3 linked regions of the Homo sapiens genome follow. Changing the gene in region 1 together with any one later gene gives a genetic interaction. Each region holds a gene or a part of one and is shown in the gene's direction. Other genes may lie near its edges.

What was found.
Region 2: changes in NDC1 (region 1) and SPPL3 together harm fitness less than expected from each alone (positive genetic interaction), as found in Homo sapiens cells (one large-scale study listed by BioGRID).
Region 3: changes in NDC1 (region 1) and KRAS are lethal when combined (synthetic lethality), as found in Homo sapiens cells (2 studies listed by BioGRID).

What each region holds. Positions count from the first base shown.
Region 1 is NC_000001.11:53,765,297-53,768,796, reverse strand, and holds the end of NDC1 (nucleoporin NDC1), read left to right. Parts: intron 1-763; coding exon 764-827; 3' UTR 828-3,319; downstream 3,320-3,500. UniProt on the Homo sapiens protein: Component of the nuclear pore complex (NPC), which plays a key role in de novo assembly and insertion of NPC in the nuclear envelope.
Region 2 is NC_000012.12:120,771,695-120,775,426, reverse strand, and holds part of SPPL3 (signal peptide peptidase-like 3), read left to right. Parts: intron 1-3,732.
Region 3 is NC_000012.12:25,219,736-25,223,467, reverse strand, and holds part of KRAS (GTPase KRas), read left to right. Parts: intron 1-3,593; exon of another isoform or gene 3,594-3,732. UniProt on the Homo sapiens protein: Ras proteins bind GDP/GTP and possess intrinsic GTPase activity. Plays an important role in the regulation of cell proliferation.

The sequences.
Region 1 (3,500 bases):
TTCAAGAAAGCAAAGATGTCTATAAGACATTTTAGGGCAATTCATAACACAATTATTAAAATAAGACCGTTTTGGCACTTTTAAAAGCGGTGACCTATTCAAGAACTAGAAAACCGGAATTTTTCATTATATTCAATTTTTGCCCAAAAGTTTAAGAGGAAGTATTATACTAGTTTCAGTATATATTTGCCCTAATTTTATCAAGGTGTAATATATTTTCGTGATGGTGAGGGTGGAGAGAGAACACAGTGTTCACATCCAAAACATAACTTATGTTCAAAGGGAGAAGTAAATCTAAACCACCAAGCTGTTACCTTTGAAAACAATTAATGGAGTCTATTGTGTTTTAACCAAACATTTTAGATTAAAGGATTTTGTATTAAAGGCAATTCAGATACTCCACAACTCAAAGATAATGTTGGAATCTGGTTTAAATAAAATAATAAAATCCAGAAAATCTACTCCAAGGCCTGGAACTCCGCACAGCAGGTTCCATAGCAGAGCAGGTTAAAGTCAATGCCTTCACTTGTCAGTCTTAATTTGTTTGGTCTTTTAGAAGATAGAAGCATGCCATTACTGAATGCAAGCCCTCCTCTTCATTAGATTAAAAAGAGTTTTCATCCAGCTTTTTCAGAAATAGTAATAAGTGAAGATTTCTATTCATTTTTAATTGTTTTGAAAAATATTGTCTCTGTGCTCTGTGGTTCACTTAATATGCTTAATGTAAAATAAAGCTTATGCTTTGAATTTATGTTTCATTTAGTGCTGTGCAAGCATCTGCAGAACATCAGAAAAGACTTCAACAGTTCTTGGAGTTCAAAGAATAGTTAAGTAATATAAACTGTGTTCATTACACTGCTGATACAACTACAGATGGGACAGTAAATGTTCAGCATTCTTGGATCAGAAGAAAACGGACTAATTAGATGCTTCCTTTGTCGTGGTGGTTGCTTTGAAAACTATACTTTAATGGGAGAAATCATGGAAAGAAATTCTCAACAGAATAACTGAAAACTGCCTTTTCTGTACCGATTGCTTTTTGTGTGTGTGGTATAATAAAATCTTTATTCAATTTTACAGAAGCATTGATGGCAGTCGAAATGTCTCTAGCTCATATAACTTAATAGTAATAACTAAAAAACTTTTAGAATTTACTTTTGAAAGGAGGGAAGCCAGTTCTGAAATGAGTATAGGTTGATTTCATAGTCTTCTTAATTAAGAGTTTAGCTCTTTGTAAACTCAAAATACATAAACTTTTTAAGTGTAGTTTCATTTACTGAAGGATAAAAATGGTAACAGTGCAGCAATATTCACAAAAAATATTGTCTAACGGACATATTTTGTTAATCTGTTAGGTTGGGTTTTTGTTTCCAGGGACAAATTAAATTTGTATGATTACCCAAAAAAGGGTCTCAGTTTACAGATGCTAACTCTATATAAAGGAATGTGGAAAAACTCAGTTCTTAAGTTACAAGATTAAAAATTCACATTTGGTCTTTAAGAAACAATTGACTGACATCTATGAATTTATTTTGTATCATGCTAGTAAACACGAAGTATTAATGTATGGGTATTTTCCCAGCTAGTTTTGCTTTCTTTTTCTGGAGCAAAACATTAAGTGATTGCAGAGTTTTTCAAGCAAGAGAAAAAGGTTTGCAAAAAAACCCAGGAAATGTTCCCTTTTTTCCCCACCATTCATCTTCATTAGATCAAATTCTGTGAAACTTGTCTGGTCTCTCAAAGGGAGCAGCCTCTGTAGTGTTAAATGGCTAATTAAAATAGGAAGATCTTTATAGCCAGAAACAACTTAGTCATCAAATAGCAAGTGAAACCAAAACGTCAGAGGGATTACTGTACTTGGAAGTATGTTGTGTGTCCCAAATGTGAACGAAGTATTGTTAGAATTTATTAGATCAGCTTCTTTGGAGATCAAAGATTGGAAATCCTAGTCATAGATATTCACTGGACTGGCTTTGGACTGAAATGCTCCTTTGTAATTCTTTTCCTATTGTCTTTTCCTTCTAGTGTCCCAAAATATTTTCTTTAAAGTCAGCACAGTACTGTATATGAATCTTTAATGTGGTATCATATATGTCTACTTTTGTCTGATTCATCGATGTATTATATCTTTATAATTGAATATTTTAGCTCCGGGTCCTGTTGCCCCTTCAAGCAGTACATGCCAAATTATAAATAGGTGCTACTGGCCTTGAGCATATCACTGTGGGACAGTTCCCCAATTGTCAAGTGTTTAGATATGTAGACTATTGCCATTTGTTTTTTTGTTTTGGTTTTGCTTTGTGTCTGAAGCTGAATTGATTTCTTTTTTTTGAATGTGAAAGTTGAATTTCAAACGTAGTCATTTCTTACAGATGGCCAAGACAGAAAATTGTGGCTAGGTTGACTGAGAACTGTTGTCTTCCATGTATTAACACAATTAAGCTTTTTATATTCCACTCTCTGTGCTGACCCTGGCTGAGGCATTTTGGGAGACAAGGACTCTGAATCTTCTGCTTCCATTAAAGAAGAACTGTGATATTCAACATTGGATTTCTGAGAATAAAGATAGGATGATTCCTTTGAACTTTGACTTACTTGTATAAAATGTCCAGCTAGGTTAGGTTTTTGCCATTTCCTATATACTTTGGGTAAAGCTACATTTGATGAGCAATGTGAATGTTTCTGAGAATGTTCATTCCTGTTTTCTCTTAAGAGAATGTGCTGTGTACTAAATACAGGCCACATAGTGTCTGCCTGTTGAAGATCTGGAAACTGCCTCCCCAGATCTGTATTGTATTTGGTAGGTAAGGGGGTCAGTTTCTTTTTCTCATTGTGTGTTGATAATCTACACACCATCTGTTGGAACCAGGGTGTTATTATGGGGAACTCCTCCTGTGTACTAGGAGGAGGACCTTAGGGAGACCAAGAGGAGAGAAGCATTTCCTTTGATGAAGTCACATCCTGTCTATGAGCCCACTAATGCTGTAACATTGGCCTGAAAGAGAGTGTTCTTTAAAAGCCTTTCTCGGCTGTTAGTATAAAAACATGATGGTATCAGCTCTTAGCATGTTTGCTTGACCCTTATGGAAGGTATAAATCCACAGAACTTCCTTCCCAGAGAACTGGGAAATTGTCCTAGAAATAAACCTTGTACAGTTGAGTGGACATGGATAAGCAACAATTTGTTACTTTGCAGGATTTGTTCCTTGGTAATTGTTTGGTGTGTCATCCTGTAAATATTCATGATAGTCTGTTTATATCCTTTTGTATATCGTTGATACTGGATTGGGTAGAAAAATAAATTGGCAATTTAAAAAAATGGAACAGTTAATTGAAATATGTGTGTTTATAAGGTCAATTATTTAATTTCTGGGCGGGGGGGTGGTGGTGGTGATGTTTCCTGAATCATTTCAATTTAGTCTCAGAGTTGTTGCTTATAAAACCAGAAAGAGTTGAACTTCTTGAGAAGTCAGCTTTTGCCCTTAACCTAGACTGATTTG
Region 2 (3,732 bases), on another chromosome or scaffold:
TAATCCCAACTCTTTGGGAGGCGAAGGTGGGCAGATCAGTTGAGGTCAGGAGTTGGAGACCAGCCTGGCCAACATGGTGAAACCCCATCTCTACTAAAAATAAAAAAATTAACCAAGGTGTGCTGGCATGCACCTGTAGTCCCAGCTACTTGGGAGGCTGAGGCAGGAGAATCACTTGAACCTGGAAGGCAGGGGTTGCAGTGAGCTGAGATTGCACCACTGCACTCCAACCTGGGCAACAGAGTGAGACTCTGCCTCTAAATAAATAAATAAATAAAATGCTACACTCTTGGTGCGCTGACTCCACATAGGGCATAGATATCTAGAGAGCCTGTATCGCGAATGTGAGCACTGCTTAGAAACCTTACAGGTTATGTCATCCTCGTAGAGAACATTTGAGCTCGGTTTGGTGTCACTGTCTTTGTCCCTGACTCACTGGTTGTAGAAGACAATGTAATACAGAGATATCAGTGATAAATTGAAAATAACTCTAGCTAAATGGCTAAGATTAATCATTTACTTCCCCCAACACTTTTGGTTAATGTACATTTAACCAAAAGTTAAGTGTGTTGGTAAACCTATAAGAGAGAGTCTCAGGAGTGTCTAAAGCCGCAAGGGAAAGAGAGCACCTCCCTTCACTTTAGCCTTGAAAAGCCCTGAGGAGGAGGTAAGATTTTTTAAGGGTTACTTGAATGACAGAATGAAAGGCAGGCAAACTAGATTGAGAGCATGTTCTGGGAATACGACATTGCTTGTGGCAGTGTTCGCTGGGTCAGAGTGGTATTTATTCCACATGCCTCTAAGAGCCTTCTCTGAGACAGTCAAAAGGATGCCTTCTGCCTCTTCATACACGGAACTTAGACTAGAGTGGGGAGGACCTAGATGGTCTAATTGGAAAGAGGGTGTTCAGCTTAACGCAGATGGAGAGAAGGGATAGGCTGAGGAATAGGAACCCGTTCAGACAGATGCCAAGGCAGAGCCAGCATGGTGCTCAGCTCCACTCTGTGGAGGTTGTGCCTCCTGAGTTTATGCAACTTTATAATTAGACTTGATTCGTCATAGAGAAGGGAACCTGGTGACCTTCAGGCAGGAAATTATGTGAACAGATGTTTGACAGTGGCAGTGAACAGTACATGGGAAAGAGTAAGAGGGAGGGAGGGAAAGGAGACACAGCAAAGTAGGAAGTGGGTGGAGGTGTGAGCAAGGTCTGCAGTAACAGTAAAGGATAACACCTCAGAATGGCTGCAGATTTCATGTGTATGATGAGAGGCTGTGATGTGTTGAAGATGAACCCAGACTTTCTTATTTGGAAGGTTAGGATAGAATGACACTGTCTGGAGTCATGGAAAACCCAGTCACTGAGCAGTCTGTTCCATGTTTAGTTTAGACGCAGGTGGAGGAGGATTAGCATGAGATGAATGACAAAGCAGCAGGTGGATGCTCAGACCTTGTGACCTTTCAAGGCTCCTGCGCAGTTAGGATGAAGTGATTCTATGGCAAATTGAGTACAAAAGTTCAGGAAGGGCCAGACGCGGCGGCCCATGCCTGTAATCCCAGCACTTCGGGAGGCTGAGGCAGGTGGATCACCTGAAGTTAGTAGTTCAAGACCAGCCTGACCAATATGGTGAAACCCCATCTCTATTAAAAATGCAAAAATTAGTTGGGCATGGTGGCGGGCGCTGGTAGTCACTTGAGAGTCACTTGAACCTGGGAGGCACAGGTTGCCGTGAGCCAAGCTTGTGCCACTGCACTCAGCGTGGGCGACAGAGCAAGACTCCATCTCCAAAAAGAAAAGGTCAGGAAGGGACAGGTCGTCTACATGTGTCACAGAGGCGAATAAACTTACCCCGAGGAGCCTGGCCTCTTGCTTCTCTGTTCAGTCTGTTTCCCTGCCCCGCTTTTGGTTACTGGTGAGCTGCATCATTCAGTCCTCTGACCCTCACTCCCCGCAGACTCCTGTCTCCCGTCTGTCCATCCTAGGCCTTCTGTTACTTTCTTCGTGCCCTTGATGCCTTGCATTCCATGTATTCACCTGTAAGTCCATGAACAGATCACCCTAGCCAGTATCTATACACAAACCTGTGTCTCACCTGTGCTCTGGCCCGATGGGCTTCCCACCTGCTGCTGACCACTGTTGTTCCTCCAGCCAGATGAGCTGCTCCCTGGTAATGTCCTGGTTATTGACTCATGACACAACCAAATCTTTGTTTCCTAAAGATGATGATCATGGGAGGTCCTGTCCTTTCAAATATGCGTGTGAGTTGATCAGAGCAGGGGCTCTGGGTACATCTCTCAGTGTCCTAAACATCATGTTTCAGTCATCCCTTTGCAGCTCTGAATGCTCTGAGCTTTGTCAAGCCTCACTGACTAATACATTTCATTAGGTTCATTTCAAATGACATGCATTTGTATACATTTTACCAGGTTGGTTGTATGAATTTATTTAAAAATTAAAGGAGACCTTAGTATAATAAACATTCTATATGATTATAAAGTCAGGAATTAGATCTTGACCACATCTCTCCAGAACTCACACTGCAGCTCACCCTGTAACTCAGTGAGCGCTTGATAACAGTGATGATAGTGGAGATGAAGATATATATTTTGCTCTTCCTAGGTTGAATACTGTCTTTCCAACTCCTCTGAGTTGTAGGGATGAGGCAGCTTTTTCTCCTCTGTGTTTATATTAGCACCGTGCACACAGTAGGAACCCATGAAACAGTAATTTAGTTGATGTGTCCAGGGTCTGCCAAGCTGCTGTATTTATCCACTTTATTACATATATTGACAATTTACCACCAGTTCTATGAAAATGAAATATATCTGTTCATATGGCTTTTTACTTTCCTTAGAATAATTTGAAATTTGAAGTTAATAGAACACAGTTTTGCATTCATTCAGCAAGTATTTATTGAATGTCTACTCTGTCAAGTGCTAGGGATCCACAGAAAGAATCAGACATGGTTTCTGTTTCCCAGGAGCACGTGGTCAGCTAGCACAGGGAATAAACTTACCAGTATGTAAATATTCACAAGGTCATAGAATGGATGAGTGAGTTGAGAGACATTCAACGTTCTATGGCACATCACATAGAAGAAGCAACTGGGCCGGGCGCGGTGGCTCATGCCTGTAATCCCAGCACTTTGGGAGGCCGGGGTGGGTGGATCACCTGAGGTCAGGAGTTTGAGACCAGCCTGACCAACATGGTGAAACCCTGTCTCTACTAAAAATGCAAAAATTAGCTGGGTGTGGTGATGGATGCCTGTAATCCCGGCTACTCGGGAGGCTGAGACAGGAGAATCACTTGAACCCAGGAGGTGGAAGCTGCAGTAAGCTGAGATTGCACCATTGTACTGCAGCCTGGGCAACGAGCAAAACTCTGTCTCAAAAAAACAAAAAAAGAGCAGCAGCAACTGACTGGTTGGATCAGGAAAGACTCTGAGAAAGGACTCCTGACCTGGCTCTTCCAGAATGAGGATGGATTTTCCATATGAAGGAGCCGGGGGCAGGACCTTCTGGGTAGAGCGTGAAAAGAACACAGTATGTGTGGAGAGCGGGAAATTGTGTTGAACTGTCTAGAAAACAGAGCCACAGGAATGCGTGTTGAGGGCTTGGGCTGTACAGTGGAGAGTGCCCTCCCTGGCCAGGGAGTTGGACATTCATCCCACCACAAGACCCCATGAAGAGTTTCTCAACAGCTCTGTGTCCTCATCAAACCTGTGTTTGCAGAAC
Region 3 (3,732 bases), on another chromosome or scaffold:
TTCACATAAATCCATTTCCAGGTTCCAAAGACCAGGAAGAGGCTTGGTTTTTGTTTTTCTTTTTACTGTCTTTACAGTCTCCTTGACTTTTCTTAGGAGAGAAGGTACTGAGAAAACATGATTCTAATATTTATTATTTTTTCTTCCAACATTTTCTTATGAAACATTTTCAAATACAAAATTGAGTTTTATTTAAAACATTTGCAAATATACTACCTAGATTCTACCATTGTTGTTTTATATTTGCTTTACTTACAACTTTTAAAAGATGCTTTTTATACCACTGAACATTTTAGCTTACATTTCACAAAGAAAAGAAAAAATTTAAGAGACTTTGCATAATGTTTTAAGGGGTTGCAGTAAAGAAGTGCTTCTTATATTTTCTTATGCATACAAATCAGCTGGGCTTATTAAAATCCAGATTCTAATTCAGAAGGTTTAGGTGGGGACCGAGTCTGCATTTCTAACAAACTCCTAGGTGGTATTTTTCTTGGTACTTGGACCATACTTTGAGTAGAAAAGCAGTAGAGGACATAAAAAGAGTCTTGTTAGTCCCACTTTGTTGCTGTCCACTTCTCATTTGATAATATCCTAAAATAGCTGTGTCTCCTTTTTGGTGGTTGTATGATTACTACCTCAGAAGTACTAATTGATTCTTGCTATTTGACCTTAATACTTTAATATAACACAGCATTCATATTTGATCAGAAAACTATCTGGCTTCCTTTTATAAGAGATTTTTAGGTTTTATACAGTTTTGTGGCCTTGGGTTTTTTTGTTTGATTTGTTTTTTTGAAGGTATATAATATGTAAGTAGATAAACAAATTTGATTTGTAGACATTTTTATGTGGATCATCTAATTAAAAATGGAGGGATACAGTATGAAAGAATACTTGTACTTCTTAACAGAGCACTCAACCTTTCTTTTACATCCTGTTTCACTGATGTTATTATGTAATTTATGTTGCTAAACTATAAATTAGATATTTAATTTCTGTTCTTTGATTTCCTTTTATTATTAAATGGACTTGTTGATTTGCCTAGAAATTAATTTGCCTTTCAAAAGTCTTATTAATCTTCCTCCGTTGAAATTAATTTGATATTTGCATGCTTCTGGAAGACTTTAAAGAGCTATTCCGAGTAACTGTAGAGATTATAAAATGAAATATGGGAATTTTAATAAATTTTACATCTCCAGTTACTGGTGAAAATGTCAAGTCCTCCTTTCTGCAGAGTATTTTGTTACTCATCTGTTATTCAGCTTATTTATTTATTTATTTATTTATTTATTTTTCTTTCTTTCTTGTTTTTTTTTTTTGAGACGGAGTCTTGCTTTGTCGCCCAGGCTGGAGTACAGTGGTGGGATCTTGGCTCACTGCAGGCTCCGCCTCCCGGGTTCACACCATTCTTCTGCCTCAGCCTCCCAAGTAGCTGGGACTACAGGCACCCGCCACCATGCCTTGCTAAATTTTTGTATTTTTAGTAGAGACGGGTTTCACTGTGTTAGCCAGGATGGTCTCGATCTCTTGACCTCGTGATCCACCTGCCTCGGCCTCCCAAAGTGCTGGGATTACAGGCATGAGCCACCGCGCCTGGCCCTTATTTGTTTTTTAAACAAAATTAGTGTGCATATCCTTGTTGTATTTTATCGGCAAGTTGTTTTATGCCCTAACTTTTGGGGTCTTGATCATGAGCCTAAAACACGTAAACACCCAAAAAGAATTATATTCCGGTTAAAGGAACAAAACATTCATTTAGAAGTTCTCATCCATGTAAATCAGAGGCTGGCAAATATTTTCTGTAAAGGGCCAAGATAGTAAATGTTTTAGGCTTTGAGGGCCACAAGTGGTATCTGTTGCATTTTTTTTTAATTATGACCCTTTAAAATGCAAAAATCGTTGTTAGCTTGTGCATAGTATAAAAATAGGCTGGCCGCATGCTGTGGCTCATGCCTGTAATCCCAGAAATGAGGTGGGAAGCCGAGGTGGGCACACCACCTGAGGTCAGGAGTTCGAGGCCAGCCTGGCCAACGTGGTTGAAACCCCGTCTCTACTAAAAATACAAAACTTAGCCAGGCGTGGTGGCGGGTGCCTGTTATCCTGGCTACTCAAGGGGCTGAGGCAGTAGAATTGCTTGAACCTGAGAGGCAGAGGCTGTAGTGAGCCCAGATCAAGCCAGTGCACACCAGCCTGGACGACCGAGCGAGACTCTGTCTCAAAAAAAAAAAAAAAAGGCTGTGGCTGCATTTGGTCCATTGGCTGTAATATGCTGATTCCTAATTCTCTGGGTAACTTTAGTGTTTGATTAGCTACTAGAAGTTAGGTTAAACTTTTGTATTTTACAGGCTAACTTTAATAATCTTAAAGTAAAACTTAACATAGTTCATGGAAAGGAAATAGAAATTTTACCCTAGTACTCTTTTTTTTTTTTTTTTTTTTTTTTGAGGCAGAGTCTCCCTCTGTCACCCAGGCTGGAGTGCAGTGGTGGGATCTTGGCTGATTGCAACCTCCTCCTCCTGGGTTCAAGCAATTCTTGTGCCTCAGCCTCCCGAGCAGCTGGGACTACAGGCACGCACCACCACACCTGACTGATTTTTGTATTTTTAGTAGAGACAGGGTTTCGCCATGTTGGCCAGGCTGGTCTTGAACTCCTGGCATCAAGTGATCCTCCCATCTGAGCCTCCCAGTGTGCTGGGATTACAGACGTGAGTCACTGTGCCTGGTCTCTAGTATTTTTTTTTTTTTTGAGACGGTCTCACTGTTGCCAGGCTGGAGTGCAGTGGCGCGATCCTGGCTCACTGCAACCTCCGCTTCCCGGATTCAAGCGATTTTCCTGCCTCAGCCTCCTGAGTAGCTGGGACTATGGGTGCACACCACCACGCCCAGCTAATTTTTGTATTTTTAGTAGAGACGGGGTTTCACCATGTTGGCCAATATGGTCTCAATCTCTTGACCTCGTGATCTGCCCGTCTCGGCCTCCCAAAGTGCTGGGATTACAGGCGTGAGCCACTGTGCCCAGCTGTACTTTTTAAGATAAGAATTGCAGGGTATATATTTTTACCAACTTAATAACTTATAATTTTAAAAAGCTAATTACTTGGCTAGAATATAATGCGTTACATATTCTTTACACTCAGTTCAGTCCATATCTGAAAGGCAAATAGAATTATTTTCTGCTAGTACATTGTGTAGTCCCTATGTTCCTAGTGTATAAGGACTGTTACCTAGTTCACATTTATCTGGGTTGTTGACAGATTTTCCTGGTCCCTTTGGACAGTGCATGGCCATGTTGGCAAAAGCTGTCAAAATTGAAACATTGACACCATGAGAATTGTGTGTTTTCCAGTCTGCTAAAATCAAAAGTGGGAGGGTTCAGTAAGGTGAATAACAGAAGCAGAGTTTTCGGGGTATCTGTTACTCCTCATTCGGCTTTTCTGCTCTCTGGGGGTCTCAATTTAAATATAATGTGAAAATTAGTTTTACGAACCTAAAAATGTTGAGTGATTCATTTCCTGGTTTTGTTGTTAATTTCTAGATATTTAAATTAATTGTTAGAAGAACCCCGTTAAAGAATGCTTTGCAAAACAACCTCCTTATGTGCTATGTCTCTGTTTAATAGTAGTTGAGTTTGTGTACATGAGATCAATATTTTGAACTATAGCTTTTTATGAGTTAAAAATTGACGGAACAGTTACTGTGCACTTGCTGTGCACCATGGTAGTCTCCCAAGTA